Linked DNA regions of Homo sapiens: regions 1, 2, 3, 4 and 5 are each linked to region 6. Evidence: fine-mapped expression QTL. A gene starts in region 6. Each other region holds a variant in brackets. All regions are shown on one strand. Distances are between the middles of the regions.

Evidence for each region. PIP is the estimated chance that this variant, and not a neighbour inherited with it, causes the effect.
Region 1: its variant is fine-mapped to the expression of KANSL1 in whole blood (INTERVAL, PIP above 0.99).
Region 2: its variant is fine-mapped to the expression of KANSL1 in tibial nerve (GTEx, PIP above 0.99). The same link has a PIP of 0.9 or more in whole blood.
Region 3: its variant is fine-mapped to the expression of KANSL1 in whole blood (TOPMed, PIP above 0.99).
Region 4: its variant is fine-mapped to the expression of KANSL1 in whole blood (INTERVAL, PIP 0.91).
Region 5: its variant is fine-mapped to the expression of KANSL1 in monocytes (Quach 2016, PIP 0.95).

Annotation. Positions count from the first base shown.
Region 1 is chr17:46,777,829-46,782,828 of GRCh38, reverse strand. All of the region lies in intron 1 of WNT3 (Wnt family member 3), which reads left to right. It also overlaps a transcript of LRRC37A2 not described here. Among named protein-coding and RNA genes, the nearest start is that of WNT3, 38 kb to the left of the region's middle. RefSeq lists an enhancer at 161-847. The variant G/A (reference allele first, on the strand shown) is at 2,439.
Region 2 is chr17:46,029,216-46,034,289 of GRCh38, reverse strand. It overlaps KANSL1 (KAT8 regulatory NSL complex subunit 1), which reads left to right. Exons shown (of 15, transcript NM_015443.4): 11 at 5-129; 12 at 830-887; 13 at 1,098-1,210; 14 at 1,991-2,243; 15 at 2,587-4,374. The coding sequence ends at 2,814. Among named protein-coding and RNA genes, the nearest start is that of STH, 33 kb to the right of the region's middle. The variant C/T (reference allele first, on the strand shown) is at 2,420.
Region 3 is chr17:46,084,855-46,089,942 of GRCh38, reverse strand. All of the region lies in intron 3 of KANSL1 (KAT8 regulatory NSL complex subunit 1), which reads left to right. Among named protein-coding and RNA genes, the nearest start is that of STH, 88 kb to the right of the region's middle. The variant A/G (reference allele first, on the strand shown) is at 2,293.
Region 4 is chr17:46,751,899-46,756,986 of GRCh38, reverse strand. NSF (N-ethylmaleimide sensitive factor, vesicle fusing ATPase) reads right to left here. Exons shown (of 21, transcript NM_006178.4): 20 at 1,618-1,673; 21 at 1-1,185. The coding sequence ends at 1,164. It also overlaps a transcript of LRRC37A2 not described here. Among named protein-coding and RNA genes, the nearest start is that of WNT3, 64 kb to the left of the region's middle. The variant A/G (reference allele first, on the strand shown) is at 2,046.
Region 5 is chr17:46,050,172-46,055,259 of GRCh38, reverse strand. It overlaps KANSL1 (KAT8 regulatory NSL complex subunit 1), which reads left to right. Exons shown (of 15, transcript NM_015443.4): 7 at 4,556-4,727. Among named protein-coding and RNA genes, the nearest start is that of STH, 53 kb to the right of the region's middle. The variant A/TTTA (reference allele first, on the strand shown) is at 2,466.
Region 6 is chr17:46,191,508-46,196,595 of GRCh38, reverse strand. KANSL1 (KAT8 regulatory NSL complex subunit 1) reads left to right here and starts at 3,167. Exons shown (of 15, transcript NM_015443.4): 1 at 3,167-3,773. It overlaps KANSL1-AS1 (KANSL1 antisense RNA 1), which reads right to left and starts at 3,023. Exons shown (of 2, transcript NR_034172.1): 1 at 2,858-3,023; 2 at 1-228.

The DNA.
Region 1 (5,000 bases), 590 kb before region 6:
GGCAGCTGGAATCCTGAGCTAGGTTTCTCTGGTTTTGTCACAAGCTCCCTGCCAAGCAGCCAGGTGAGCGGCTCCAGTCCAGGCCTGTGGCCTCCCTCATCCACAGCAGTGATTGCCTCGTCACTATGGGTGTAGTTGGGTGCATCAGAGCCCACCAGGCCCAGCCCCACGGTGTGCACACATGCCCCTGAACTGGCTAGGCTTCCTGTCCTGACATCTGCCAATCCTGAACGGCTTCTTGACCTAAGTGGAAAGGTAGAGGCCTGAGTTCCAAAGCCAACGCTTGGTTCCTCACTTCCTGCTCTTTCCTCAAACCTTTCCTTTCCCTTCTAGAAGTTTCCGTGGAGGGTGGAGCCCTTCTGGGCCCAGGAACAAGTTGGGCCTCTGTCCAGTACTGCCCAGGAGCCAGCAGGTGGAGCACCTGGCCCTGGCCTGTTGTGGGGTTGACAGGAGCACCGTGGCCCCCACCACAGGGAGAGAAAAATGACCACAGGAGAGGTGATTTCTGACTCCTTCTCCTCACCTTCCCTCCTCCTCTCCCTCTCAGCAGCCATGTCAGTCATTTTAAGAGACACTAGATCTTCAGATCAGAGTCTTAAGATGCCTTCCCTTTGAGGCTGGCACAGATGGTTAGATTTCCGCATGGAGAAAGGTAAGGGCAAAGGGCCTATTTCTGCAAAGAAGGCATGACTTGGGGAGACTTGGCCCTGGAGAGCACCCTGAGACCGAAGGGAGGAGGGGAGCCTTTCCCTGGGCCGCAGCCCCTGGGTCCACCTTCTGCAGCTCCACCCATGTGAAGCCAGGTGGGTCCTTTTTGTGCCCAGCCCCAGAGAAGCTTCTGAGAATGTGCATTCATCACCCCCAGGTTAAAAGCCTGGTGGGTAAAAGAACTGTGAGCCCTGGGTTCTCCTCCCACCTCCTGGGCAGCCAGCTGTGTGACCCCGGAAAATGACAAACCTCTCTGGGCCTCAATCTTCCCGTATAGAGGAAGAGGGAATTAGACTAGACCCGGGGCTCTGGAATTTCGTCCTGCACAGGGGCTCTAGATGCGAAGTTGAAGGCTGGGGATGCAAGCACCATCCCTCCTTTGATTTTTTTAATTTTGCTATTTAACCATTTTAAAGTGTACTATTCAGTGGCATTAAGTACATTCCAATGCTGTGTGACCATCACCACCGTCTGTTTTCATCATCCCAAACTCTGTACTTATTAAGCAGTAACTTCCCACTCCCTCCCTTCCAGAACCCCTGGCAACCTCTGTTCTACTTTCTGTCCCTGTGAATTTACCTAGACACCTCATGTAAGTGGAATCATACAGTGTTTGTCCTTATGTGTCTGGTTGCTGTCGCTTAGCTTGTTTTCAAGTTTCTTCTATGTTGTAGCTTGCATCAGAATTTCATTCCTTTTTTTTTTTTTGAGACAGAGTCTTACTCTGTTGCCTAAGCTGGCGTGTCTTTACCTAGAACCTCATGTAAGTGAAATCATACAGTATTTGTTCTTCCGTGTCTGGCTTCTGTCGCTTAGCTTGTTTTCAAGTTTCCTCTACGTTGTAGCTTGCATCAGAAGCATCAGAATTTCATTCCTTTTTTTTTTTTTGGTTGGGGGGACAGAGTCTTGCTCTGTCGCCCAAGCTGGAGTGCAGTGGCGCAACTGGCTCACTGTAACCTCTGCCTCTCAGGTTCAAGCAATACTCCTGTCTCAGCCTCCTGAGTAGCTGGGACTACAGGCACGCACCACCAGGCCCGGCTAATTTTTGTATTTTAGTAGAGATGGGGTTTCACCATGTTGGCCAGGCTGGTCTCGAACTCCTGACCTGAGGTGATCCACCCGCCTCAGCCTCCCAAAATGCTGGCATTACCGCCACCACACCCGCTTCCTTCCTTTTTCTGGCTGAATAGGGTCCCACTGTATGTATGGGCCACCTGTTGTTTATCCATTCATCTGCTGAGGACTCTTGGGTTGTCTCTACCTTTTGGCTGCTGTGAGTAGCACTGCCGTGAACACTGGTGTACAGGTGTCTGTTGGAGTCCCCATTTTCTTTCCTTTTTTTTTGAAACAGAGTCTTGCTCTGTCACCCAGGCTGGAGCGCAGTGGCGCCATCTCAGCTCACTGCAAGCTCTGCCTCCCAGGTTCATGCCATTCTCCTGCCTCAGCCTCTCTGAGTAGCTGGGGCTACAGGCGCCTGCCACCACGCCCGGCTAATTTTTTGTATTTTTAGTAGAGACGGGGTTTCACCGTGGTCTCGATCTCCTGACCTCGTGATCCTCCCGCCTCGGCCTCCCAAAGTGCTGGGATTACAAGCGTGAGCCACCGCACCTGGGCAGAGTCCCCATTTTCAATTCTTTTGGGCGTATACCAGGTGTGGCATTGCTGGATTATAGGGTGATTCTATGTTTAACTTTTTGAGGGACAGGGCCCTCTTTTCATATGTTCTGTAT[G/A]TAGGGGAGAGGAGGGAGATTGTGTGTGATTCCATTTGGGAGGCCACCTGGTTGGGTGCAGGACTGCCTACCCTAATGGATCACTCAGGGGAGTGGGTGCTGGCAGCACAGTGGGTGTCCCTGGCAGCACAGTCAGACCCCCATCAGCAGGGGATTGGCCGTCACTGGGTGGACGGCAGCATCTGAGGCCAACAACCCCAGTGTCAGATCAGGCAGGACGCACTGTACAGGGTGCCTTTAGGTGTCTCACCATATGTTAGGTGCGTAAGTCAATGCAGCATCCAGGCTGACCTGAATTCACTGATTAAAAATGTTCTCTAAAAATGTTCTCTATGGCCAGGCATGGTGGCTTACGCCTGTAATCCCAGCACTTTGGGAGGCAGAGGTAGGTGGATCACTTGGTCAGGAGTTCCAGACCAGCCTGGCCAATATTGCGAAACCCTGTCTCTACTGAAAATACAAAAATTAGCTGGGCATGGTGACGCATGCCTCTTATCCCAGCTACTTGAGAGGCCGAGGCAGGAGAATCACTTGAACTTGGGAGGCAGAGGTTGCAGTGAGCCAAGATCACGCTTTGTACTCCAGCCCGGGCAACAGAGCAAGATTCTGTCTCAAAAAAAGAAAAAAAAAGGTCCTCTCTGCCTTGTGCTCACCATGCAGGCCTCCTGCAGCCCTCTGGCCACAGCAGGCGTTATCAGGGTAGAGGCACAGAACTGGGGTGGGGATGGGAGTTAGATAAGGCCATGCACAAGGTTTAGGTCTTGCCTATTTGTGGAGGGATATTTCACTCCAAGGGGTCAACACCAAAGTTTCCACAAGCAGCCTGTTGTGCAGGGCACCCGCAGCCCATCCGCCTGGCTGCCCGTGTGTGTCCTCGGCCCAGCTGGGCAGTGGGTGGTCGGAGTGGAGGATGAGCCGGCTTCAGGAGGAGGGTGGCAGGGTCCTAGGGAAGGGAAGGGCCGGGCCAGGAGCTGGGTATAAATAGCCCCTGGCCCAGCTGCGAAGGCCTGGCAGGGTCCTCCGCCCTCCCCCTCACCAGCTGTCAGTGCCAGGCAGGTCTCTATCCCCCTTGGGAGCCTGGCCATCATCTCAGATCCTAAACGTAGGAACTTCCTCAGCGGAACCAAGGAGTCTTGTCCTGTGTGTAGGCGGAAGCTCCGGATGCCGGGAGGTCTGGCGAGTGAGGGGCATCAGGCTCGTCCTTTGGAAGAGTTCTTCATTCCTTTCCTCCAGAATCATGAATACCTAGCATGTGCCCGGCCCTTTGGAAGGCCGAGTGGGCTGGGGTGTGTGTGTGTGTGTGTGTGTGTGTGTGTGTGTGTGTGTGTGTGTGTGTGATGGGGTAGGGACCGGGGAATAACTGGAGAAAACACTACCACTACCTCTCTTCTTGGAGACTGAGACTGGCATAGCCAGATGGAATTGGAAACAAATCAGTTCAGCACTTTGGGATAAGAAGGTTTGAATTAGGTACAGGAAAGATTCAGGCGGAGGAGAGGTGACTTCTGTCTGGAGCTCACAGAAGGCTTTAGAATGGTGGTGACCTAGGAATCAGGTTTCAAAGGATGGTGTAGAATGGTTGCCGGGGGCCGGGCAGTGGAGAGGTGCTTCGAGCCGAGGGCTCAGCATGTGCAAATGTGCAGAAGTGTGAAACAGCCCCGCTGGAGTCATTCAGCTGGCTAGGCAAATCCGTCAAAGCCACGCACACTTTGGCACAAAGAATCGAGGAGCATGAGAGTCACTGTGCCGCCTCCCGAAGTGGAACGTGTACTTCAATAATGGGGAATAGGAGTGGCGAGTTAAAGTAATGTGTCTGCGATGGTGGAATTTCAGCAGTGTGCGGGCAGGAGGCTCAGGGTGGGGGTGGCCGGGCATGTTTGGGGAAGGGCAGCCATCCTGCAGAAATCAATCCCATGGCCACAGCCTCTTTAGTCTCCGACACTGGCCCAGGAGCTAAGCCCCATCGCCAGAGGCCTTGCTAATTACTCGCAGGATGACCCCATCTGAACTGAAGCCTTTGAATGGAGCATCCTGAAAATGTCCTTTTGCCTGCACTCTTTGAGTGACCTTGAACCCTCATCCAGATCACAACTGTCTTTGTTCTGCCACCCCTGTGAGGACTGAGGTCTGATCCAGGCATCCTTTCCAGTGTTGGATAGGAAGGGGCTGAGATTTCTGATGTGTTCTACCAAGTCAGGGATGCAAGGATGGGAGAAATGAGGTTGGTGACAAGGCAGGGAACAAAGTGCTGGGGACAGCTCCACACACACCGTAACCATAGCAACCACCATCTAGCAAGGGCTCCCCACGTGCCATGCACTGGATTGTGTCACTTATTCCTCCTGTCGTGTCTATTTTACCGATAAAGAAACTGAGGTATAGAGGTTAAGAAAATTGCTGAGATCAGCAGCTAGGAAGTGGTAGAGCTGGATGGGACCCTGGCACCATGGCTCCCAGGTCCACAGTTGGTGGGACCTGGGCAACAGGAAGGAGACAGGGTTTGGTGGAAAGAGGGAAAACAGCTCATCATGACTGAGGCTCAGGAATTGTTCTCAGAGGACA
Region 2 (5,074 bases), 160 kb after region 6:
ACAGCAGCAGCCAGTAAGGAGGAGAAGGGGAGAGAGCTCATTTGATATTAACAACATTGTCATCCCAATGTCTGTTGCTGCAACAACTCGCGTAGAGAAACTGCAATACAAGGAAATCCTTACGCCCAGGTAGAAGCTCAGAATAGTTGGCTCCTCTCCCCATTCTTCCTGCTATTGCCCTTTTTCCCTCTTCTCTTCTGACCAAGAGTTGGGCCCTAGTCTTTGGTTCTGTCTTCTCATTAAGAGAAATTCTTATCTGATAAGAACGAAATTATTTCTGTATATAGTTCTCTCTCATTCCATTATAGGAATACACCAAACGAACCAGCAGTCACAGCCTGGTAGGCCATTCACTTACTGGTCTAGAGACCGGTTTTGTCAACACATACAGTATGTTTTAAAATACTGAATTTGTTGTCAACATCAAAGCAGGATTTCACATAAAAATCTTTGTTTCCAGCTTTTGTTGCCAAACAGAAGATTAGGCAACCCTGGGTATGCATTTCCATATGGGAGCAATCAGCTGGTCCTGAACAGTGGTGGTCCTCTTTAAACAGGTTTCTTTTCTTGTGTTTGTCACAGTCTCTCAGCCTCAGCCTTACCCTAGGCCGCTTCTCTCATTTCTGGCCTTCTTGGGCATTTGAGTAGGTGGCCAATTTCACAGGCCTTGACAGGGTAGGGAGACTGAGCTGTGATAGGGCAGAGCCTACCCGGCAGAGAGCAGTGTCACCCACAGGTGCAGGATTCTCATCCTTGCATGGACACTTTGACCCTGCCCCCAGTTTTAGCCTGCTTGCCATCTCATGATTGTCTGTTCTTGGTTTTGCAGCTGGCGGGAGGTTGATCTTCAGTCTCTGAAGGGGAGTCCTGATGAGGAGAATGAAGAGGTAATGGCCTGGTTCTTCTGTTAGAAGAACACGTGTGTACACATGCACACATACATATGAGTGCACACACCCTAAATGGCCTGAAGACTTGTGGGTGTGAAGTGCAAGCTCCTTGTATTCCTGTCGTGACCGGGAAGAACCTAGAATGGGGTGGGACTGGTTCTTAACTCCTGGAGAAAAGAGGGGATCGATGAAGCTGCTCTATTGCAGATTGAGGACCTATCCGACGCAGCCTTCGCCGCCCTGCATGCCAAATGTGAGGAGATGGAGAGGGCACGGTGGCTGTGGACCACGAGTGTGCCACCCCAGCGGCGGGGCAGCAGGTGATGGGGCAGGCTTGGGTCCCCAGGGCCTGTGGAGAGAGGGTGGACAGGGAGTTTGGGCCCTACTTGAGTCCATGGAATTGCTACTGCCTCTTGGTTGCTCATCATACTCATCTACTGGCAGTGGCAAATAGCTCAGAATTTCCTTGGTGTTTGTTGGAACTAGTGGAGATACATGGAACTAGTGGAGATATAAGGAGCCAAGTGCTAGATCCTTGCTGAGAAGTCACTATGTAATTCTGAATTCCCATGATCTGTGGCATTTGGAAGACAGTTGGGGGGTCATGGTGATTCAACCCGGGGAGCTTGGAAGGCCTCGCTACAAGTTAACCTTCCTTTGGACAGTGGCTTTGTGATGCCACTTGAAGAAACTGCCCCCCCTTAACGTCCATCACTACCCTGTCTCCATTTATTGTTAACAGTGGCAGAAACCCTCGGGATTCTCAAGTAGAAAGTTTTGGGAGCTCTTACTTTTACTTTTTTTTCTTTGACTACAGTTTTCAAAGTCTACACGAATCTCCCTAACCTCCTGAATTCACTAGGCACTTTGCTATGGACTCACCTGGCATTGTTCAGCCATGCTTTTTTCTTGGGATGGTAAATGTTGTATACCTACCCCTCCAGAGAATAGTGGGAAGAAATGGGAGTTGCTGGATCCTAAGGAAAATCTGTTGGTGTTTGTTTGCCTCAACTCCTCCAGTGGGGATGCTTTTTTCATGCCCTCTACCCCCATAAGTAAACATTTCCCAGGCACTCAGATTTGCATTCCTTGGTGTGCAGGTCCTACAGGTCATCAGACGGCCGGACAACCCCCCAGCTGGGCAGTGCCAACCCCTCCACCCCCCAGCCTGCCTCCCCTGATGTCAGCAGTAGCCACTCTTTGTCAGAATACTCCCATGGTCAGTCCCCTAGGAGCCCCATTAGCCCGGAACTGCACTCAGCACCCCTCACCCCTGTGGCTCGGGACACTCCGCGACACTTAGCCAGTGAGGATACCCGTTGTTCCACACCAGAGCTGGGGCTGGATGAACAGGTAAGGGACGCAGCCTTTGGGTGGGGTTGGCATGGTTGGGGGATGGAACCAGGAAGGGGCAGCATCTGCTGAAGAGGGACCTAGCCATCCCCTCCCCCTTTTGAAGGGACAAAGGGCTGCACTTAAATTGATCTCCTCAACGTTCAGTGGAACTGTATTGATCACTGCTAAATGAT[C/T]AATACAGTTGTCTGGGTATACCCTAGGAGGGGTGTTCCCAGACTGTCGCAGGAACACTAGATAGACTGGTCCTAGGCTCCAGGCCACAAGGTTTGTGGCAGGGCCTTGGAGCAGGAAGCAGGCTGGCTGGGACTGGGTCCTCAAAGAGCAACTTGTCTGCCTACAGTCTGTCCAGCCCTGGGAGCGGCGGACCTTCCCCCTGGCGCACAGTCCCCAGGCGGAGTGTGAGGACCAGCTGGATGCACAGGAGCGAGCAGCCCGCTGCACTCGACGCACCTCAGGCAGCAAGACTGGCCGGGAGACAGAGGCAGCGCCCACCTCGCCTCCCATTGTCCCCCTCAAGAGTCGGCATCTGGTGGCAGCAGCCACAGCTCAGCGCCCGACTCACAGATGAGCGGGAGACAGCCATCTAAACAGACTCACTAACTATTGGCATTAAAGCTTCAGAAATCTCTGCGTTTGATATTCAAACATCATATGCCGGAAATTTTCACAGTTTTTAGTGAACTTAAGGAATTTAGATCCTACTTTGGTATTTTTTTTTCTTGTTTTAATTTTTGTTTTGTTTTTGTTTCCATGTTTTCTTGTCACACACCTGAGCACTTCCTCCCGTTGGCAAACAGAAGTTCAGGATGAGACCCTGCTGGCCTGGTCCTGGCACATCCTCTGCACTGTTGAATCACTGGACTTACTGATCTTAGATGACCACCCCCTCCCTCACACCTGTGGGCAGGGCAGAACAGCCTGGCGGGCTACAGTTTAGCATGGCCTTCTTGAGCTAGGGTGGAATGGGGCAGGGTGCTCTGGACTCTTACCCCCTCCCCTCCCATCTGTGGCTTGGCTCTGCTGTGGCCCTCCTGGCTGGGTCCCCTTGGTTTTTCGTGCTGGAACATCCCCACCAGAGCCTCTCTGCCATAACTGCCAGCTGCTCTCCCCGAGTGCTCAGCTGGCAGAACACCTTTCCTTTCTCACCCAGAACTTAAGAGACTGATTTTTTGTTTCATCTGCATTTGGTCTTCTCTGTTTTGACTCTTTCACTGCAGTAACCTGGCTGTGGCTGCTCAGGTTCCCCTCCTCATGCCCCTTGGTACCCTTCCCTGTCTGCTCTCCCATGCCATGTACACACCCACAACCCGTCCTTCCACTTGGAATATTTTTACCACCTATCCTGATCTTTGAAGGTAGGGTTAGGACTACTTAACCTCTATTCCCACTCCCCTGCAAACTGGGGGTTGTGGGAAGTGAGCAGCCATCTCCCTGTGTGATTTTTTTTTTTTTTCCCTCTGATTCACTTTGCCATGTTTCCTTCACATCCAGATCCCTGTCGGTGTTAGTTCCACTCTTGGTCTTTCACGCTCCCCTTGCCTGTGGAACATTGTCTGGTCCTAGCTGTGGTTCCCATTGTTCCCCCTTCACCCTTCTCTGTTAACCTTGTGCCTGTCTCCTGTATGATCACATCACCAAAAAGGGGGAGGGGGGAGAAGACTCTTTTTTTTTGGCCATTTTGTAATCGTATAAAAATAGTAGACAACTGCTTAATGGTTGGGGTTTTTTCACAATTTTCAACATTAGTGATTTTTTTTTCTGTTTGCAAGTTAAAGGGTTTGTCATTGTTTCTTTAAAAAAAAATACAATAATGCACCATATCCCTATGCATAAAGTGCTTCTTCTATTTATAAGGTTGAAAATTCTGAATAACCCTTTTAGCATTGAAAAAAAAAACAAAAACAAAAAATGGAAAAAAAAAACCTTGTATTTTGTAAATATTTTCTTTTCCTGCTTTGGAGCTGTGTAATGGCAGCGAAACATGTAGCTGTCTTTGTTCTATAGAAATGCTTTTCTTCAGAGAAGCTGATCTTTGTTAATGTCTTGATTCTGTTCGCAAAGCACAGACTAGTGCTTAAAAAAAAAAAAGAAGGAAAAATTGAAAAAAATAAAAAAAAAAGTTACAGAATGCTGTGTACCAGGCCTTTCTTGACTTACTGAACTGTGTATGCATGGTAGTGTTGGCAGTTTCGGAGCTGGCTCTCTGCCGCCGTTCTTTGGGGTACTCTGACTTGCTCTATACCTTGGAAAATCTCCATTCTGTCTTGTGGGAACGCCGCAGGTTGATCTGATGGCCACCAGAGAGAGAATGGTGGTGGCTTTTCACTGAGGGTAAGGGCTGCCAGGAGGAGAGGGGATCTGCATTGATCATCTCTTTTTTCTTTTTGTTGAGTGAAAGCAGTTGATGCACTTTCTCTCTAGTGAAGTCAGCTGTATGATATTTTCTATCTGTTCTAAGTTGCTCTTTAAAGGAGATTTTGCTTCTCACTGTTAAATTTTTCTGAGGTTTGGTGGGGTCAGTGAGATACATAATTTGCTTAGAGCCTGGATTGGTTCTTGCCTGCTGCCTGAGATTATAACATCTTTCTTCTGAGGAGGTTACACGCTTTTTTTTTTTATTGTTTGAGATGGGATCTTGCTCGATTGTCCAGACTGGAGTGCAGTGGTGCAATCTTGGCTCACTGCAGCCTGGATCTCCTTCCTGGCCTCAAGAGATCCTCCCACCACAGCCTTACCAGTAGCTGGGACTGTAGGCATGTGCCACCATACCCAGCTAGTTTTCGTGGGTTTTTTGTGGAGATAGTGTCTCACTATGTAGCCTAGGCTGG
Region 3 (5,088 bases), 110 kb after region 6:
AGCCATGGAATTTTCCCCCAATGATATATTCACATGCATTTAGTCTTTATGTAACACTATAATTAATAGAAGTTTTTGAGCACTTGTGATATGTCAGGCACTGTGCTAAGCATTTTACTCTCATTCACGATTTTCAAGATAAACAATGGAAGATCAGAGCAGTCAAGTAGTTTGTTCATGGTTACACATCCAAGTGAGTGCAGAGCTATTGCTCAAGTTAGTAATCACTTTAAGTGCTTGGGTTTTTTTTTTAGTTACTGAAATGGAAGAAAGTTTTTCCTATGTGTTTTGGTTAAGTGGGTTGGTGTTCATATTTTCCATGCTGCACCAAGATTTCCCAGCACTTCCTGGGTTGCACAGGTCTTTTTTTTTTTTTTGAGATGAACCTAGGTGATAGGCTGAATCTTGGTGATAGGCTGTTGAGTTATAATTTGTCTTCGGGTGGGAGATTGGAGGGATGGTGGGGCTTTTCTTTTTAAGGATTTACTTTGTTGCTTATTAACATTAATTTTATTTAAGTGGCGTATTACCAAAAAAAAAAAAAGTATTTGTGACTACTGCTAGGTGATTCTAGGATCCAGACACCAGTTTCTGTTCTGTCAGAAGGTAGGTATTACCTTCCAAGCTGTGAAGTGAGTAGAGTCCCTTTTGGGAATAATATTGCTCTCTGGAGAAAGAATATAACTTCTAGGAACTCCTCTGTACTACTTCTGCATGCTGTTGTACTCTTTTAATTTTCATAGTTTGTCAGCTTGTTTTTTAAAAAGAAACTCTTCCATGCTTTAGAAGGAGAAACGAAAACAATATACGTACCTTGAGTGTATACTAATTAAAGGTTTACTCATGTATGTTCGTTTAATGATCAGAATAAATCTTCAGAGGCTTGTAAAAGGCAGAGCTAAATTTAAACTCAGGACTTTTTATCTGATTCCAAAGCATTTTTTTTCTAACATACTTTGCTGTTGTGTCCTTTTCATCATTTCACTGAAACATGTTTGTTGAAATTTCACACCTGGTAAATGAGGGGAAAGAATAGGGACTAAGCAGTTTTTAAGAGGCAGGGTCTTGCTCTGTTGCCCAGGCTGAGGTGCAATGGCCAGATCATAGTTCTTTGTAACCTGAAACTCCTGGGCTCAAGCTATCCTCCTACCTTAGCCTTGCAAGTACAAGTAGCTGGGACCATAGGCAAGTCCCACCATGCTTAGCTAATTGTTAAAGGGTTTTTTTTATTTTAAAGGATGGGGTCTCGCTGTGTTGTCCAGGCTGGTCTCAAACTCTTGACCTCAAGTGATCCTCCTTGCCTTGGCCTCCCAGAAGCACTGGCTTGACTCTTACGTTGTTTTTTAAAATCTCCTCTTCTGACTACTCTTTGAGATTACACAGCTGTAGCTGAGGATGGAAATGTTATTGAGGATGGGAGGTGGAAGAGCATTGAAACTTTTGAATAGGGAAGGAGTTGAATGGGAACTGCAGAAGCTTATAACACCTTTCTCTTCAAAATTTTCATAAAGCTGTTGAAGTTCTCATCTTAATAGGGTTTTTTAAAGCACTTTAGACAACTTATCTTTTCCAGGTAGCCCAGGGTGATTCTTGTGGAACTGGTCTGCAGTGGGGTCACTGGTTTGTCTTGAGATGCATAGGGAAGATTGACCTGATAGAGTGATGTAAGGAAGTATGTGAAATTGCCTGTTAGCTGTATTGCAAATACAGTTGAGAGAGGGTTCATCCACAGAGGAGTCACTTAGGAGGTATTAAGGCTGCATGTAACTGTGACCCATTCCAGTTCCTTTGGTCCTTGTGTAAAGCAGAAGCTTGCTTCACTCTTGGAGTTTTCTAGGCCTGTGCAGCCTAAGCATGATCCTGGCTCTGACTCGGGACATGGCGAAGGAAAAGGAGACTCTTGACCTTTTTCTTCGGCTTCTACCGGTTGCTATTTCATAGTACAGCAGCCCTAAGTTTATTGCCACCAGGCTAATGGCACAGCTATTCAACACTGACCCAGTTTAAACCTGGAATGTTAGGGAAGCCCATGTTGGGGTAGCATGACAGGTGTGGAGTAGAACATTATGAAGTTTTCTCAGCTAATGCTAACCTTTCTTTTCATGGTTATTAAACATGAGTAAACTTTATCCGAAATAAGTGTTATTGTGGCATATGAAACATTGTATACAGAAAAGGGCAAAGTCATTAAGTGTATAGTTAATGAATAAGTATAGCTCAAAATATATTAAATATATTTTGGGGAATGTTAAGTAATTATGTAGACCTCCTCTGTAAAGCCTCACTTTCATC[A/G]GTCTCTTCAGTTAGGCTCTTTTCTGCTCTGACATCACCTTCTCTCAACTTCTGTTATAGTACTGTCATAATACTTTGTCTCTTTGTCTGTTCAAGGCTAGATGAACATAAGCTCCTTATGGTAGAATCTGTTTTTATTTTATTACTGTGTTTTCACACTACCTTGCACGTGGTAGCCACTCAATAGATGCTACCTGCATGAATGACTCTTACCTACTTGGATGCTTTTTATTTGCTCAGCCTCTTTTTAGCTGTTTTCATCCTTTTTGGTGTGAGGTACAGTATTAAATTAGAGGATCCAGTGTTTGGTTTTGAATGCCATAGTGAACTTACATATCTTGGGGGCAATGGACAGTGTATGGATGATTGTTGGTTGCTTCAGTGTAACACTTGAGCACATATTTTCAAAAATAGGTTTAATTAAAACTAATGTGTATTCAAATGTCCTCTGAACAAATGAAGAAGAGTTCCATTCTTCTGGTTGTGGAAGCTAGAAACCTTGGCAGTGTCTCTGACTCTTTTCCCTCCTATCTTGTAAGCACATTGGCATAGCTGGTTGATTCTGTCTTCAAATAAACATTCAAGCAGGGGCACAGTGGCTCATGCCTGCAACCCGGCACTTTGGGAGGCCAGGGCGGGTAGATCTCTTGGCCCCAAGAGTTTGCAACCAGCCTTGGCAACATGGTGAAACCCCTTCTCTACTAAAAATACAAAAAACTAGCCAGGCGTGGTGGTATGCGCCTGTAGTACCCCCTCCCACTTGTATCTCTCTCTCTCTCCTGGGCTTAAGTGATCCTCCTGAATATCTGGAACTACAGGTGTGATATTACACCAGGCTAATTTTTATTATTATTGTTTTTGTGGAGACAGGGTTTTGCCACGTCGCCCAGGCTGGTCCTGAACTCCTGGCCTCAAGCAGTCCTCCTCCATTGGCTTCCCAAAGTGCTGGAATTACAGGCATGAGCCGTCACGACCAACCCCACCATTTCCACTTCTTAATCCCCTCACTATCCTATATTTTGTTCTCTCTAGCATTTAATACCTTCTAATGTAGTACATAACATTTACCTATTTACATTGTTTTTCTTTGCCGCAGTATTAGAACGTAATAAGCACTTTGAAGGATGGGTTAGGGGAGAGGGATAGGTCTCTCATTTTTTCTTGTATCCTTAGTACCTAACAAATGCTGATGAGCGGATAAATGATTTAATTAACTGAACAAAAGAGGAATGAAATATTAGTTAGATGCAGACTTTTGCCCCAGTTCTGCCATGTATTGGCCTGTAGAGACATAAGCTTTGACCTACATCCTCTGTGGGTCTATAAAATTATGTCGATGAATAGATGGTCCCTACCAAGTTTTATTATACTCTCTTAGGAGATGTCTTCATAATCTATCTGAGGGTTGTATTTAGAAATTATTCTGTAGTTTAAGGAAAAATTCTTCCCTTTGGAAAATACTGACTGCGTCCTTACTTTCATATAACTGAAAAAGAAAAATTGAAGGAGTAATTTTATATCTAATTGTTAGATTTATTTATCTTCTGGCTATAATTATTATAAAGTTAATATTTTCCTGTTAGGAAAAAAATTATACAACTCAACAAATATTTGCTATGCATTTATTTTCTTGGTGTATGACTCTGCTAAGGGACATGGGTCATTTAAATATATTTGTATTTTGTCCACATCTTCAATAAACTAACATTAGTTAACAATTAAAGGCTGGGTGCAGCGGCTTGCACATGTAATCCCAGCACTTTGAGAGGCCGAGGCAGGTGGATTGCTTGAGTCTAGGAGTTTGAGACGAGCCTTGGCAACATGGTGAAAGTCCATCTCTACCAAAAAATAGAACAATTAGCTGGGTGTGGTGGCTTGCACCTGTTATCCCAGCACTTTGGGAGTTTGAGGCAAGTGCATTACTTGAGTCCAAGAGTTCGAGACCAGCCTGAGCAACTTGGTGAAACCCCATCTCTACCAAAAAAATACAAAAATTAGCTGGATGTGGTGGCATGCACCTGTTATCCCAGCTATTTATGGGGTTGAGGTGGGAGGATCACTTGAGCCCGGGAGGGGGAGGTTACAGTGATTCGTGACCACACCACTGCACTCCAGCACAGGTGACAGAGCTTGACCCTGTCTCAACAAACAAGAAACTGAGGCAATAATAAGTGAAATAAATAATGTGGCATAAGATTATGAATGCTCTGGAAATGAGATTTAAATACACAGAAAGTAAGATACAATCACCGTGCTTTAGGAGGTCTGGCAGTGTGGATAAAGCAAGTAGGAACTCATTAACCCGGGACATTTTCTTGGAAGGAGGTGGGACTTGTTGAAAATCTCTTTGGAAGGACGAACGGCAATTTGGACTGATAAAATATAAAAATGAGTATAAATAAAGATGAACAGCTCATGTGTTAACCTTTAATTCAGTTTTTTTTAACCTTCTACTGACTAATAACCCTTACCTCCAGCAGCAGCAACAGCTTCACATTCATTGAAACATTTGTCTAGGAGATGATGAGATTGGTATAACACTAACAAATATTTGGGGAAAGTAGTTGGAAATTGATCTTTAAAAAAGTTCTTAGGAACCGGTTATGGGAAAATTTGAATAATAAAATGATTTTTGGCATGCTTTGTACAGGAAGCAGGAAGACAGTTTGGGCCCTTAAGTAGGGAATATCTGTTGAATACAACGTTTTGAGAAGGCAGTGGTGTACAAGATAACTGTCTTTTGCAAATAGTTTTTATTTGGATGTGATAAAGTTTGTAAGGTATATCTTATGCTTT
Region 4 (5,088 bases), 560 kb before region 6:
ACTCCATAAGTCTCATCACCAAATATGACCTAATTAAATTCCTGCTAAGTCAGTCAGTTGTAAGACAAATCACCCTCAAAAGGACTCAACGGGTGCTTCCTTTTGGAAGAAGTGTGTGGAGGGTAAAGGAAATGTGTTCAATGTATTGGAATGGACAATAAAGGACTGAGGGAGAGGGCTAGAAAATGATTGATTTTTCTGGAGAATAGTGTTTTAGACACTAGATAGTACAGATCATTTAAAATAAAGGATAAATTCTAAGTAAGTCATTAAGCTAAGGAAAAAGCAGTGATACTAGTAAGCCTTAATATTATACTAAGGAATTGACCCACTTGGAGTTGGACACTAATTAGTGCTGAGAGGTTTGTAAATTACTTTAATAACTCCTTTCTGTTTGGGGGTGTATGCTTTTTCCATACCTATCTTTCACATGTTTTTAACAACATCTTCTAAGTGGTAATAATGAGCATATCTCTTACCACAGAGCAAATTAGTTATACTTAAGGGGAAGTCACAACCAACACGGTAGTCATCTGACTTTCTATTAAGAAAGATCTTCTGACTGCAACTTGAAAACATCTCTGACAATGATTGAGAACAGCATTTTAGAGATTCAATGCCTTGTTTCTTCAGGCAAAGAGAATACCAGTCTTGTGGGAGACCTTTAACCAAATACCCAGTGACTTTTAGTGTTAGCTCAGGACAGCTGTCAGAGGATCTCTGGCCCACACCTCGATTTACTAAGCCAGATTTGCATGTAGAAAGTCTGCCTTCTAATCGGCCAACTGTTGTCATGCAACATTCATGACACTGACTGAGAGTTTTCAAGGGTGATGGTGCTAGTAGAGAGGTTGAAACGTGTAGTGTCCACAAGTACTGGATGGTTCCCACCCAGAGGGACTGAGCAAGAAGGAATCACTTTAGCCTGCATGGGAAGGTAAGCGCAGCATTCTAAACCAAATTGACACCTTCCACGAGACACTAAGCTATCTCAGTATGCATAAGGAAGGGAGTTTTATTGCACTAATCATGCAGAGCGAGCACATGTTGAAGGTAGAGAACGTTCCACTTAGTCCAGTATCTTGAGTAAGACAGTGAAGATCCTAGGCCATCTTCACCTTGGTCACTTCCCTTGGTCACTGTGTGTTTCAAATAGTTCATTTTCAATCAAAATCAAGGGGGCTACTGCAAAAGAAATACCAAAACACAAAAAAACAGATGAGGGTCCGTAAAAAACTATTCATCAAAAAAAAAAAAAAAAAAATCACTAAAAGCTTCTTAATGGTTATCCTACATTTCCCACTATGCATTTGCTATTAGATGAGCACTTCACAAAAGAAAATGGTCACAGCTCCATGCATGTAAAAGCAGGTTCCAATAAATATGTACCATTAAGTTTTTCCTGCATTGTGACAAGGAAGTTTTGCGAAGCAGGACAGGGAGAGCAAACCAACAGTACAACCAACTTCCTTGCTTGGTCTCTCGGACCTACAACACAGCGAAGAATTCAAATAAATGGAAACAAACTTATCTAGGAAAGCAACTCTTAGAATAGGCACAGGGATTTAACAGGGTGGTAAGTTTGGTTGATGGTCATTAAATGTTGTATGTACTTACGCTCCTTCTTCTCTTAAGAGGGCCAAGAATTTTCTCACACGGTATTCAGGATCCATCTAAATACATCAGAAGAAATGAAGATGGGTTAATGGTACCTTCTAACAACTCTGCACTTGCTTCATGAGAAGGCAGTGTTCGGTTTCACACTTCATCAATGCTCTGCTAGGTCACTGAATGTGTTACCTGCTCCTTGACCAGCATTCTCACACAAAACAAAGCAGATCACATCATTTGGAGGAAGTGAATGGGGTTTTCCAGAACTATGTACACTGGGTTCCAAAAGACCCAAGCCCGCTGGCCATCATAGGCACTTGGGCCAGGCGTGCCCTGTGCTGATGCCTGTGAGGCATCGCTGTGAGACTGGACAGGGCCATTCATCAGAGTTCAAATGACAACCAATTCACCTGTTGAAGGTGTAAAAGGCTACT[A/G]AAGTCACAGCAAAGTAGAAGATACCAAGTTGAGGTTAATTCAACAACTAAAAAATAGCTTATTAACTCTACATAACCAACCATGTAGCTTTTCTTAGCCTCAGTATCCGTCATATAGTTTCTTCTTTGTAGTAACAAAGTTGTGCTAAAACTAAAAAAATGAAGAGTACTGCTGATTCCTGAAATCATCTCCAGATGAATCTGGGTCTCCTGTGACTGCGAATGTGTCATGAGTCTAAGAAAAGATGGCGCAACTTTGTTTCAGGTGCTTCGTTCAGGTCGTTATTATTAGCTATCTCGACTGGTTTTCATTTTCTATTCATATTTATACTAACTCGTTAAATGTACTTTATTCTCGTAGGCCCACAGGAGATATGAAGTTATCTAGAAAACAATCGTTAAAAACATCTTTAGTTCCTGAAGATGAATTTTTATTGTAAGAAACACACCTAACTTTTAAAATATGTTTCAGAGCAGGAGTCTGTTTCCCAAGAGGGAACTCCCTGCCCTCCAGGAATAACTTTCAAATGCTCAGTGCAGCTGTGGGGAGATGTGCAATTGGACTCCCACTCCAACCACGGATTTTTTTTTCTTTTCTTTCTTTTTTTTTTAAGATTTCTTCTATCCCAGAAAAACACTGAACAGAAGTTTCAAATGTATCAAAGGTAAGAGGTCAGACTACAAAGGACTAAGAAAAAGTGTGAATAGCTAACAAAAGAAACATTTTTCCTTTTTGGGAATAGAATTACATATGAATCAATTGTCAAGTTCTTAAAAAAAAAAAAAAAAAAAGAACTGGCTGGAGCGCAGTTGTAGTTGGTACTTGCAGTTCTTTGCCCATTAAATATATTTAATATGTGTGAGCAACAACTTACTGACTTGCCTGTAGCTATGGAATTAAAAGTCAGGAGAAAGGGAGGAAAAAAGTAATCTAGATAAATGACTTTATTCCCTCAGGTGACATCCAGTCAGAGCAGATCCTCAGCTCTGTGCAAGTTTTAACAGAATAGCATGTAGTGAACAGAGAGGTACCACGACTTATATTCTGCAAAACTACATGCCTCTTCACTTAGGTTCAGCCTCTCTAAGGCAGATCTAAAGAGAATTCACTCAGCTGCACGAAATCCATTTGACATGAAGGGGTTCAAACTCAGAGGCCTATGAAATGTCAGTCGCTGAAGATCAGGCCTGAGTGCCCCACTCTCACTCTCTATCCCACATGCATAAGAAGCATTAACTTGATCACTGACCTGCAGGCATCAAAGGAAGGGAAAGGGATGAGGGTTGGGGAAAAAATCCACATAGTTTCTTCTATGCAATTATTGAAAAAAAATTATACTGAAACTTAAAAAAAAAGAAGCTGACAATCTGACAGATTTATCTTTTTTTCAAGGAAAGAGCCAATACACCTGTATTTGCACTTTTACCAAGAATAAGTCTAAACAAAGTGGTTAGTCTGTGACTTTAATTTATGGCTCATAATGGAAAATAAATTAATTGACTTAAAAATAGTCCATCTGAAAGCTCAGTAGATTAAATTAGATTTCTGAAAGTCAAAAAAATTTTATTTTCAGATAAATTTACCAGAAAAGATTAAAAAGCATTCACTTCACGTTTCCAATTTGTTATTGGTCCAAGAGCCTATTTCAGATGTAACTGTGAAACAGAAACTTCACCTCTGCCGCTCACTGCCCACACTAGCAGAATGCAGGACCATCAGTAAGTAACACATGATGCCTAGAATACAGCCACTCTGTCCACCTAGATGGACCTAGTAACACCTAGTAACACATGATGCCTAGAATACAGCCACTCTGTCCATTTACCTAACTGTAAAATGAATTTACAGTTATTCATCCAACAGAAGTTTACTGGCCGGGCGCAGTGGCTCACACCTGTAATCCCAACATTTTGGGAGGCCGAGGCGGGCAGATCACCTGAGGTCAGTAGATCGAGACCGGCTTGGCCAACATGGTGAAACCCCATCTCTACTAAAAATACAAAAAATTAGCCAGGCATGGTGGGTGGGCGCCTGTAATCCCAGCTACTCAGGAGGCCGAGGCAGGAGAATCCCTTGAACCCGGGAGGTGGAAGCTGCAGTGAGCCGAGATCATGCCACTACTCAAGCCTGGGCAACAGAGCGAGACTCCGTCTCAAAAGAAAAAAAAAGAAAAAAAGTTACCGAGGGCCAGGCATAGTGGTGCATGCCTGTAATCCCAGCACTCTGGGAGGCTGAGGCAGACGGATTACTTGAGCTCGGGAGTTCAAGACCAGCCTGGGCAACATAGTGAAACCATGTTTCTACAAAAAATACAAAAATTAGTTGAGTGTGGTAGCACACGCTGGTAGTCCCAGCTACTTGGGAGGCTGAGACGGGAGGAACGCCTGAGCCTGCGAGGTCAAAACTGCAGTAAGCCATGATCATGGCACTGCATTCCGGCCTGGGAGACAGAGCGAGACCCTGTCTCAAAATAATAATAATAATAATAAAAGTTTACTGAGCACCTTCATATGTGTTGGCTCTGTTCCAGGGGCTGTGGACTCAATAGTAAGAGCCAAGGTCTCTGAACTCATAGGGCTTGATAGGGAGGTATTTATCAGCTACCTAGTATGTCAGATAAGGACAAGAAGACACAGCATGGGCACATGGAAGGGTGGAGTTCTAAAATGAAGAAAGGTAAGTTGCCAGGAGATATGAGAAAGTCCCAAAGAAGTTTCATCTGTCTTTGCCCAGGCAGCACCCTGGGGCTCAGTTTTCTATGTGATTCTGGATGCTTCAACCCTACAGTAGTTTGCATGAAATTTCTAGGAGCCCAGCCAGGGACAAATATACAGATCCCAAGTCTAGACTGCACAACTTAATTAACTTGTCCCTTAAAGCAGTCTCCCAGACACCGTTTGGTATATGTGCAGTCGCTTACTGACTTGAGGTGCAACACCATCCCTTCTCCATCAATAACCTGGTGATGTGATCTTGGATAATTCACTGACAGCCTGTGGCTCACATAGTATCCTTATCTCCAAAATGAGGGGGCAGAAGAAC
Region 5 (5,088 bases), 140 kb after region 6:
ACTCCTAACCTCAGGTGATCCACCTGCCTTGGCTTCCCAAAGTGCTGGGAATACAGGCGTGAGCCACCGCGCCTGGCCTTTCACTTGTATTTCTAAATAAAACTTACTTTGGGCCGGACACGGTGGCTCACGTCTGTAATCCCAGCACTTTGGGAAGCTGAGGCAGGCGGATCACGAGGTCAGGAGATCGAGACCATCCTGGCTAACACCGTGAAACCCTGTCTCTACAAAAAATACAAACATTAGTCAGGTGTTGTGGCGGGCGCCTATAGTCCCAGCTACTCGGGAGGCTGAGATAGGAGAATGGCATGAAGCTAGGAGGCGGAGCTTGCAGTGAGCTGAGATCCCACCACTGCACTCCAGCCTGGGCGACAGCGAGACTCCATCTCAAAAAAAAAAAAAAAGTTACTTTGAATACTGACATTTAAAGAAAAAGACACGATGTGAGAGAATGACCATGGAATTAGTGGTTGAAGAGCCAAGTGCAGAGGCCTGTGATCTGGAAGGTTGCCTGCTATCTTGGAGAAATATAGCAAGGAAATCAGAGTAACTGGTAGTGTCAGCTAGGAGAGTAACAAAAAAATGAGGTGAAGTCAGAGAGAGGGGATAGAGGCGACAAATACTATAGGACCTTGTGGGAACCATGCAAGAAGTTTGGTTTCTATTCCTCGTGAGATGAGAAGTCATTTGGAAGATTATGAGGTTGGTATGATGTGATTGAGATTTTAAAACAAGATTTACACTGATTACTGTGTTGATTGATTTGGAAGTAAGAACCAGTAGGAGGAGGATCAGTTAGGAGGCTTGAAGAAACCCATTTGAGAAAAGATAGTGACTTGGACTAGATTGAGTGTAGTTGAGGTGGTATGAAGTGGTTGGATTCTGCCAATAGGATTTCATGACTGGGACCGGTCGCGATGGCTCACGCCTGTAATCCCAGCACTTTGGGAAGCTGATACGGGTGGATCATCTGAGGTCAGGAGTTTGAGACCAGCCTGGCCAACGTGGTGAAACCCCGTCTCTACTAAAAATATAAAAGATTAGCTGGGCGTGGTGGTGCATGCCTGCAATCCCAGCTACTTGGTAGGCTAAGGCAGAAGAATCTCTTGAGCCCAGGAGATCCTTGTTTTTTTTTTCTTTTAAGAGACTGACTCACTCTGTCTCCCAGGCCTGGAGTGCAGTGGACATGATCACTATAGCTCCTCACTCCTGGGCTCAAGTGAGCCACCTCAGCCTCCCAAATAGCTAGGGCTACACATGCACACCATCTGTTGTGATATTTTTAAAAATTTGTTTTCTTATTGTAAAACACAATATTGTATGTGTTCTTGTTGTTTTTTAACTTAAATGAATTCATGCAGATGATTTGGCATCTTGTTTCAGTGGAAGAGCGTGTGCGTGTGTACACTTAAGTTTGTCTGCAGGATAGATTCTTGGTGTGGATTTGTGCAACATGGGTATGAATTCAAGTTTTCTTTCAAAAATTTTCCAAAATGTATCCTTTAATAAGTATTAAATATATCTTTGGCCGGGTGCGGTGGCTCATGCCTATAATCCCAGCATTTGGGAGGCCGAGGCGGGCAGATCACGAGGTCAGGAGATCAAGACCATCCTGGCTAACAATGGTGAAACCCTGTCTCTACTAAAAAAATACAAAAATATTAGCTGGGTGTGGTGGTGGGCGCCTGTAGTCCCAGCTACTTGAGAGGCTGAGGCAGGAGAATGGTGTGAACCTGGAAGGCAGACTTGCGCCACTGCACTCCAGCCTGGGTGACAGAGCAAGACTCTTGTCTCAAAAAAAAAATAAGTATTAAATATATTTTTATATACTCCTCGGGTTCTATTAGTACTTTACAGTTTTTAATTTAAAAGTGAGATTACTGTTTAAGTTACATGTGTGCACATTACCCTTTTGTCAAGTTATAAGTAGAATTTCTACCCTTTATTTTATTTTTTTAAATTTTTAAATTTTTTTGGAGACGGAGTTTTGCTCTTGTTCCCCAGGCTGGAGTGCAGTGGTGCAATCTCAGCTCACTGCAACCTCTGCCTCCCAGGTTCAAGTGATTCTCTTACCAGCCTCTCCAGTAGCTGGGATTACAGGTGCCCACCACCATGCCCAGTTTTTTGTATTTTTAGTAGAGACGGGGTTTCACCATGTTGGCCAGGCTGGTCTCGAACTCCTGACCTCAGGTTATCCACCCACCTTGGCCTCCCAAAGTACTGGGATTACAGGCGTGAGCCACCATGCGCAGCCTTTTTTTTTTTTTTTTTTTTTTTTTTTTTTTTTTTTTTTTTGGAGACAGGATCTTACTCTTTTTCCCAGGCTGCAGTGCAGTGGTGCAATCATGGCTCACTATAACCTGAACTCCTGGGCTTAAGCGATTCTTCTCCCTCAGCCTCCTGAGTAGCTGGGACTAAAGGCATGCAATACCATGCTGGGCTAAATTTTTTTTTTTTTTTTTTTT[A/TTTA]ATTTTAAATTTTATTTTAAGAGATGGAGTCTTACTGTGTTGCCCAGGCTAGTCTCAGACTCCTGGCTTCAAGCAATCCTCTCTCCCACCTCAAAGTTTTGGGATTACAGTTGTGAGCCACCACGCCTAGCCACATCTATTGAATTTTTTTATTGTTGTTGTTTTGTTTTTTTGTTTGTTTGCTTGTCTTTGGACTTAGTCTCATTCTGTCGCCCAGGCTGGAGTGCAGTGGTGTGATCTCAGCTCACTGCAACCTCTGCCTCCCAGATTCAAGCGATTCTCCTGCCTCAGCCTCCCGAGTAGCTGAGATTACAGGCTCCCACCACCACACCCAGCTGACGTTTCTATTTTCAGTAGAGTCGGGGTTTCACCATGTTGGCCAGGCTAGTCTCAAACTCCTGACCTCAAGTGATCCACCCGCCTTGGCCTCCCAATATTGACTTTGACTTAAGTGATACACTCTAGCCATAAAATGTAGTGTTGTTAAATGTCCCATATGGAGAGCTAGTTGATGTCATGGGTTGGTTTCTAGTCTCTCTCTTTTTATTTTTTATTTGCTATACCTACTGGAGTGAGATAATCTCTTTTGAATATTGAAAGTTTCAGTGTAATTTTTGGATCCTAACCAATTTTCCTAAATCCTCCCACTCACCCACTGTGTGATCTCATTTTCATCTCTACCTACTCATTTCTCTTTACCTCAAAATGTCATCCTCTCCAGAAAGCCAGCTCTGATTACATAGATACAGGGATTTTTTTTTTCCCAAAACAATACCAGTTAATATTGTCTACACAAAAGTAGCATGCCTAGTTGGTATCACTCCCTTTCAGTGGCTTCTAGTTCTGTGTGATTTGCCCAGTCTAACCTTTAAAAGACTTTATTTGCGTGCCACCTCTCTATGTGGTTACAATAGAATGTCGGGGGAATGTTGATAAAGACCACATTGTTCTTATGTATATCTTTCTCTTACACAAATCCATAAAAGGCTTTCGAGATGTCTCTGCTGAAAATAAATGGAGCTCTAGTAAATGTTAGAGTTTTTGCTAGTAGAGTTTTGATGCTTTTTGTCTTTGTTCTACTACTGAGCTTGCACCTAGGATGCCTTCTTATAGTGCCATTCAACATGCAAGTTTCTTTTTCTGGGGCTGTGTGTCCAGGTGACTTTATGAGTTAGGCTTTGGCAAATGCCAGACTTGTTCATCCTAACACTAGAATGTAGGGATCCTGCATTCAGCATGACCTGAAATTTGCTCAAAGTATAAAATTGTAGATGTTCAGTTTTTATACAGAATTCAATCTTTTGAAGACTTAAATTAGTTCATATTTAACTTTGGACTTACCTGGAGAGGTTATCAATTATTCTGCCCACATGTGCACAAAGGAAGTTCAGTGGAAATAATTTCTACCCTTTGGAATTAATCTAACATGAAGACTATGAAAGTGAGCATTTGCTGTACAAAATGTTATTTTATTACTTAGGTATGAGCTTTGTAACAGTGGATTTTAGGCCAGGTTAAAGAGTAGTTAATAAGTTACTTTTAAGTTACAAGCTTCAGGGAAGCTTGCCACCTGGCTTGAGACCACCTGAAAGTCTTTTGAAGAAGAGGTGTGAAAAGAAGAGAAGAGGTGTGGTTGGTAATTGAAGGCTCCTAGGTGGATAAATTTGCTGAAGAAAGCAAGTAATGTCCCACCTGGGAATCAAGAACCAACTGTTCGTCTTAGCGGACCATCAAGGTCGTGAAAGCATGCAGAGTTTATAAAGTGTTCTCAGAAAGCACAGTTTTAGTATCTTTTTAAACTGTCAGAAGTTTGATACCTAGGTAAGCACTTAGAGCTTCAAGTAGTTAGATTTCATCAATGAAAAGGAAGCAAGTTTCCTTACCCACTTTGAAGGTCAGTGTGTTAGACAAATGGAAATCTTTTAACAAACTAATCAAACATCCTTTTAGTAGTGTCACACAAGTATCTAGAAAGGTCTTCGCAATAACAAATGGGGAGCTAACTTCTCAATAACAAATGGGGATAACAAATGGGTAGCTGGCTTTTTATCAGATGCTGAATTGTCAGTTTTGTTTGGCTTTTTTCACAGGTTCACCGGAACAGCACAATCCGCCCTGGCTGTGATGTGAATCCCTCCTGCGCACTGTGTGGTTCAGGCAGCATCAACACCATGCCTCCCGAAATTCACTATGAAGCCCCTCTGTTGGAACGTCTTTCCCAGTTGGACTCTTGTGTTCATCCTGTTCTAGCATTTCCAGATGGTAAGAAAGACCACAGACTAGAAAGTCTAATGAAAGAAACTTGAGAGACTTCTAGGTGAAAGAAAATCAGCCAAGGTGCAGTTACAACTCAGATACTTTCAAGGTACAACTTTCGTCAACCAAGTCTTCTCTTAGAATTTTGCAAAAAGACTGTAACAGATCCACCAAACCAGAAGGTGCCACTAAAAGGTTGCAACTTAATATGAGATTTCCTTCTAACTCTTCAAGTAGCTAGGAGGGATCTGGGCTCAGTTGCCTCTAGCCACAGTAATCTGGTCCAAAATACGCTTAGTATATCTTTAAAAATGTTTTGTCTGGGCCAGGCGTGGTGGGTCACGCCTGTAATCCCAGCACTTTGGGA
Region 6 (5,088 bases):
GTTGATACAGTGGCTTAATGCTATCACCAAGGACCAACTCTCTATTCCCTTTGATGTTGGTGGCATCTTCAGGCTTGCTGCAAAGGTGACTGTAGCAGTTTGAGGTGTCACTGTCTGAGGAAGAGGGACTGTTTTTTCCTCCATCATTTTTAGGATTGAAGAACCTTTTCTCACAGTTCTCTTTTGGAGGCTGTCCAGGGGGCTTCTACTCACATCTCATGGCCATTCCTAACCAATCATTGGCAAAGAGAATGGGTTAAAACTAATCAGAATAGAGTGGATATTGGAGAGTCAACATGACTATTCCAAGAGTGATTTGAAATATGTTGGTGTTTTTATTTTTTTATCACTTTTCATTTTGAGATGGTCTCGCTCTGTTGCCCAGGTTGGACTACAATGGCATGATCATGACTCACTGCAGCCTTGACCTCCCAGGCTCAAGCAATCCCCTCAGCTTCTGGAGTAGCTGGGACTGTAAGCACATGCTACCACACTTGGCTAATTTAAAATTTTGTTTGTAGAGATAGGGTCTCACTCTGTTGCCCAGGCTGGTCTCTAACTCCGGAGCTCAAGTGATCCTCCCACCTCACCCTCCCAAAGTGCTGGGATTACAGGAGTGAGCTGCTGCACCAGGCCTTTTTCTTTAAATCTTTTTTTGTTTGTTTGTTTTATTTTGTATGTAGGTGTTTTCAATCAGCCTTTTGGACATCCACTATTTTTTGGGGGGAAATTTAAGAAAATTTGTTTCTCTTCATAAGATTTTTGTGTGGTGGCTCATGCCTGTAATGCCAGCACTCGAGTCCAGGAGTTCGAGACCAGCCTGGGCAACATAGGGAGACTCTGTATCTACCAAAACAAAAAGGAGTGAAAAAAATAACAGCTGGGCATGGTGGCATATGCCTGTAGTGCCAGCTACTCAAGAGGCTGAGGTAGGATCGCCTGAGCCTGGGAGGCTGCAGTGAGTTTGATTGCACCACTGCACTCTAGCCTGGGCAACCGAGCAGGACCCTGTCAAAAAAATAAAAGTACAAGTGGATGCCTAATAAGAAAGATGTCTGATTTTAGATAAGAATATACAACAGGTTGACTGATTTAAGTGCCATAAACCCTGTGAACTCTTGACTCTTGCACTAAGCAATGAGAGAAAGGGGAAACTGGAATTTATAGTTCCCCCAAATACATGGTTTTAAAAATGAGCATTTTCCAGTTTTCTCCTAATCCATTAGAAAAATATATTTCATATAATCTTGCTTATTTGGTTGCCTAATTAAATCTGACAGTTCAGTCTTAAAAATTTGGAGCAGCAGTAAGATTATTTTGTTATGGTGTGTCTGAATTTAATATTTAAGTATACGCTGCAAAGGGCTTTGCCTTATTTGGTATTTTTCATTCTGCTAATTTAGATTTCAGGAGCCTCAGATTGGGGCTCTAGTTCGCCATCTGTTGGTCCAATACCCTTCTACTGTATTTTGTGGAATTACTATTTATGTGTGTATGTGTGTACAATAAAAAAGTCAAAGTTTTTCCCCAGGGTTGTAAATTAAAAATCCAAGACTAAAGACCTCTTTTGGATGTGTATACAAATATTAGTTTATTCTTTGTGTAATTTGACCCTATGACTCCAAACTGCCTGCCTTTGGTATTTGAGAACTATGACTATGCTTGAGAGTGTGATTTTAGGAGTACAAATGGAAATTCGCAGAAACCTAGGTGCAGATGTTGCAGGGGCAGGTGAGTTAGTGTAACTTTGTGGGAAGACTAAAACCGTTCTGTAACGACTGTGAGGGTGTTTTTTGATAAGCAGAAGTGACGTATAATGCCGGATATTGGTTCTGGTAAGCCACAAAAAAGTGTGAAGCATTTTGCGTCTTCCTTTTTGGTAGTAGAGCATACATACCCTTCTTATCTGCCGAATTTGATGATTTAATGATTTGAACGATTTTTTCTTCAGTCATTTAAGCCAGTTTTGATGAATCCTAGATTAGTCTTTTAAATCTCAAGATACTCCACTCATCTTTTGGCAACTTTAAAGGGTGGTAGAATTACACTTTGTGTGACACTTTGTATTACATTATGTTTATGAATTCTTTAAGTCTAGGAAAGGTTCCATTATTTTAAAGGTCCTATTTTGGGGACAATATAAAGTTCTGTACTGATAAACTGGTCATGAGAAATGATAAGGTGCCACCACTTTAAACCAACTCTGGTAACGAGGTGGGAAGTTGGCTTTTTGTTGTGAGACTTGTGTTTCTTTATGGAGTTCTTTGTTAAACTTTTAGCATGGCAGTGAACTTCCTTTTGGTGGCGGCAGGAAGCATAAATACTCATTGTGTAATGCCATTTGCCTGTTTTGGCGGATCTGCCAAGCCATGACACCCAAAACAAGACGCGTGTTTCTTCACGAAAACTACAGTTCCCAGCGGGCCCGGCGCCGGCGGGGCCATCACTTCCCCTCTGGCTCCCGGCTGTCCCTTCCCGGGCTGGCCCGGCGCGGGCCCTGGCTGGGGCCTGCGCAGTGACTACGTGCACCCTCCCCACCCCGCCCAACTCTGGTGGCTGCGGAGCGCGGTGCTGGGGCTAGTGCCCAGCCGTGCTGCAGTATACGGAGGCTGGCTGCTAGGGACAAAGGGCGGGCGGCGGAAGCCGCTTCACTGGTCAGGGAGCTTTCTGCAGGGTTAGCCTTGGAATAGTGTGGTGCCGACGGCCTTACCCTCTTTACTACACAGTGCAAACAGTTCCTCGCTCACGTCCTCTCGCTCCGCGGCGCCGGCCCGCCCTGCCCCTCAACTGGCGAGCCGCACCGCCGGCCCCAGCACGGAGGGCATGTGACGGCGTCAGTGCCTCAGGTTAGACTCACCTCGGCCGCAGCGAGGGCTGGCTTCCCCCTGCCGCAGTGCTGCGTGCCGTCGCCGCACGTCCGGGGCAGCTGGGGCCGGGCGCCGCGGCCTCCGCAGATGGAGGTACAAAAACATCGGCCACGGCGAGGAGCCATGACTGAGGCGGCGGCGGCCGCGCCTCCTGGCGGCCCGCGGGGGCGGCGCGGCGGGCGCCCCCTGGCGGCGCGCCGGGGTGGAGCGGCCCTTCGCCGCCGCAGCCGCAGCCGGCGGAGGCGCTGCTGTCCCTCCTCCCCGTGTCCCCGGCGCTCGCCCGCTTGCTCGCTCGCTCCATTCTCCCTCCGCTTCAGATTAAAGGGGGGGAGGGAAAAGGAGCTCGGCCGCCATTTTCCCAGTGCCGCCGCCACCGCCGCCACCGCTCGCCGAGCCGGCGGGAGAACCGAGCACCGTAGCGAAGCCGACTCGTCTCGCCGCGGCGGCGCGGGGGGCGGCTGAAGCGCGCTCCCCGGCTGGAAAGAGGCGGCCGGGGGTGGCGGCCTGGGTGCGGGTTCGGGCTGCAGACGGCGGTGCTTGTTTGTGCGGGGCGGGGGGGCGGTTTCACTCTCTGCCCCCGCCCGCCCGCCCTCCCGGCCGGGCTGCGGTCTCCAGCCGTGCTCGGGCCCCGTCGGTGCGGAGCAAGGCCGGGAAAGGGCCCGAAAGAGAAGAAAAAGCAGCCGCTCCCCGCCGCCGCCTTCCCCTCCCCCTCTGCCTCGCCCCCCCGCCCGGAAAGTCAGGGCGGCTCCGGGCGTCGGGGGGAGGAGAGCGGCGGGCCCGGGCCGGAGCCGCCGTCGCGCGCCCCCGCCCGCCGCTGGCCCTCGGCGCCCAGGCCGGGGGGCTGTTTGCAAACTGCGCCCATTTTGTGGGGCTGAATCCGCCCGGGCTACGCTCCTCCATCACGTGGTAGGTGCTGCTGCTGCTCCTCTCCTCCTCCTCCTGCTGCCCTTTCTCCTTCTCCTCGCTCTCCCTGTGGCTCCCATTTCTCTCTCTCTTTGTTAGTTGTAACTAGAAAGGCAGGGCAGGGTAGAAAAATCCCCCGGAACTTTAAATGGCCTCTCCGGGCTTCCCTGCTGCGGGTCCGGGCTGGGAGTCGCCCCAAGGGCGGGGGTGTGCGGGGGCCCTTCCCCAGGAGCTGCCGCCTCGTTCGCCAGCTTTTCCTTTGGCGTTCTATTTAAAAAGGCGGCCTGAAGAACATGATTTATTCCCGTAAAAGAACCCCCCAAACAAACTCTGGCTCTCGCCTTGAACTTCTCTTGACTGCAAAAGGCCTTTCTCTGCTCGAAACACACATCTTGGCGCGTTGCACGGTTTGTATCACAACTCTGATTGTTTCATTTATTATTTTTGTTGCCTGTAAATTCAGGTCACTTACGTTTTCAGATGTAGTCTCCCTCAGGCGGACTTTTTTTTTTTTTAAACTAAAGAGGAAGAGGGATTTATTTGCTTTTAAGTGAGTTGGAATCTTAACTGCCTTTTTGGGGGCCTGTTTTCCGGCTGACGGTCTTTTGATTCTTAGCAAATAGTTTGTTTTCCATACGATAAACAGCGCTACTCCCGTGTCTTACTTAAAAATCCTCGTTTTCCAATGTTGGAATCCCAATGTGGATTTATAGAGAAACGTGCTACTTAACTATTGCTTACTGATTGCTTTAGGGGAGAAGGGGTGACATGATGGCGCCACTTTAAATTGCTCTCTTTCCTTTTCCTCGGTCCCCCCCACCCCCCTTTATCCTGGAGGTCACTGGAGCATTTTCTGTGACTTATTAATAAAACTGTACTTGAGGGTGTTAGAAGCACAACTCGTAGGGGCTGGAGTTTAGTGCTCCTAGGGTCGGCAGACCGACTGCCGCGGTCCCCAAAGTTCCGAGAAATCTCTCTTCCTCCAGCCTCGCCTCCCTCCCCTCCATTCACAATCCTGGTGTTGCCATCTCCTTTGTCACGTGGCTAGCAATCATTGTGTTTTTTTGTTTGTTTTGGGGTGTGTGTTTATATTTTTAAATTGCAGCTCAGAGGAACCTTTCCTTTTCGCTTTGGAGAGATCAAAACGTTTTACTTGTTTTAGTTTTAGAGTCGGAGAACATTTTAAAATAAACGATAAAATTACATAATCTTTGCCTTGCATAATCATGATATAGTTATAGATTGCTACTGAACTTCATTTTGAAAGTCCTTTCAAGTATGGAAACTAGTACGTTAGAATATGTTTTCCATTTGTCAG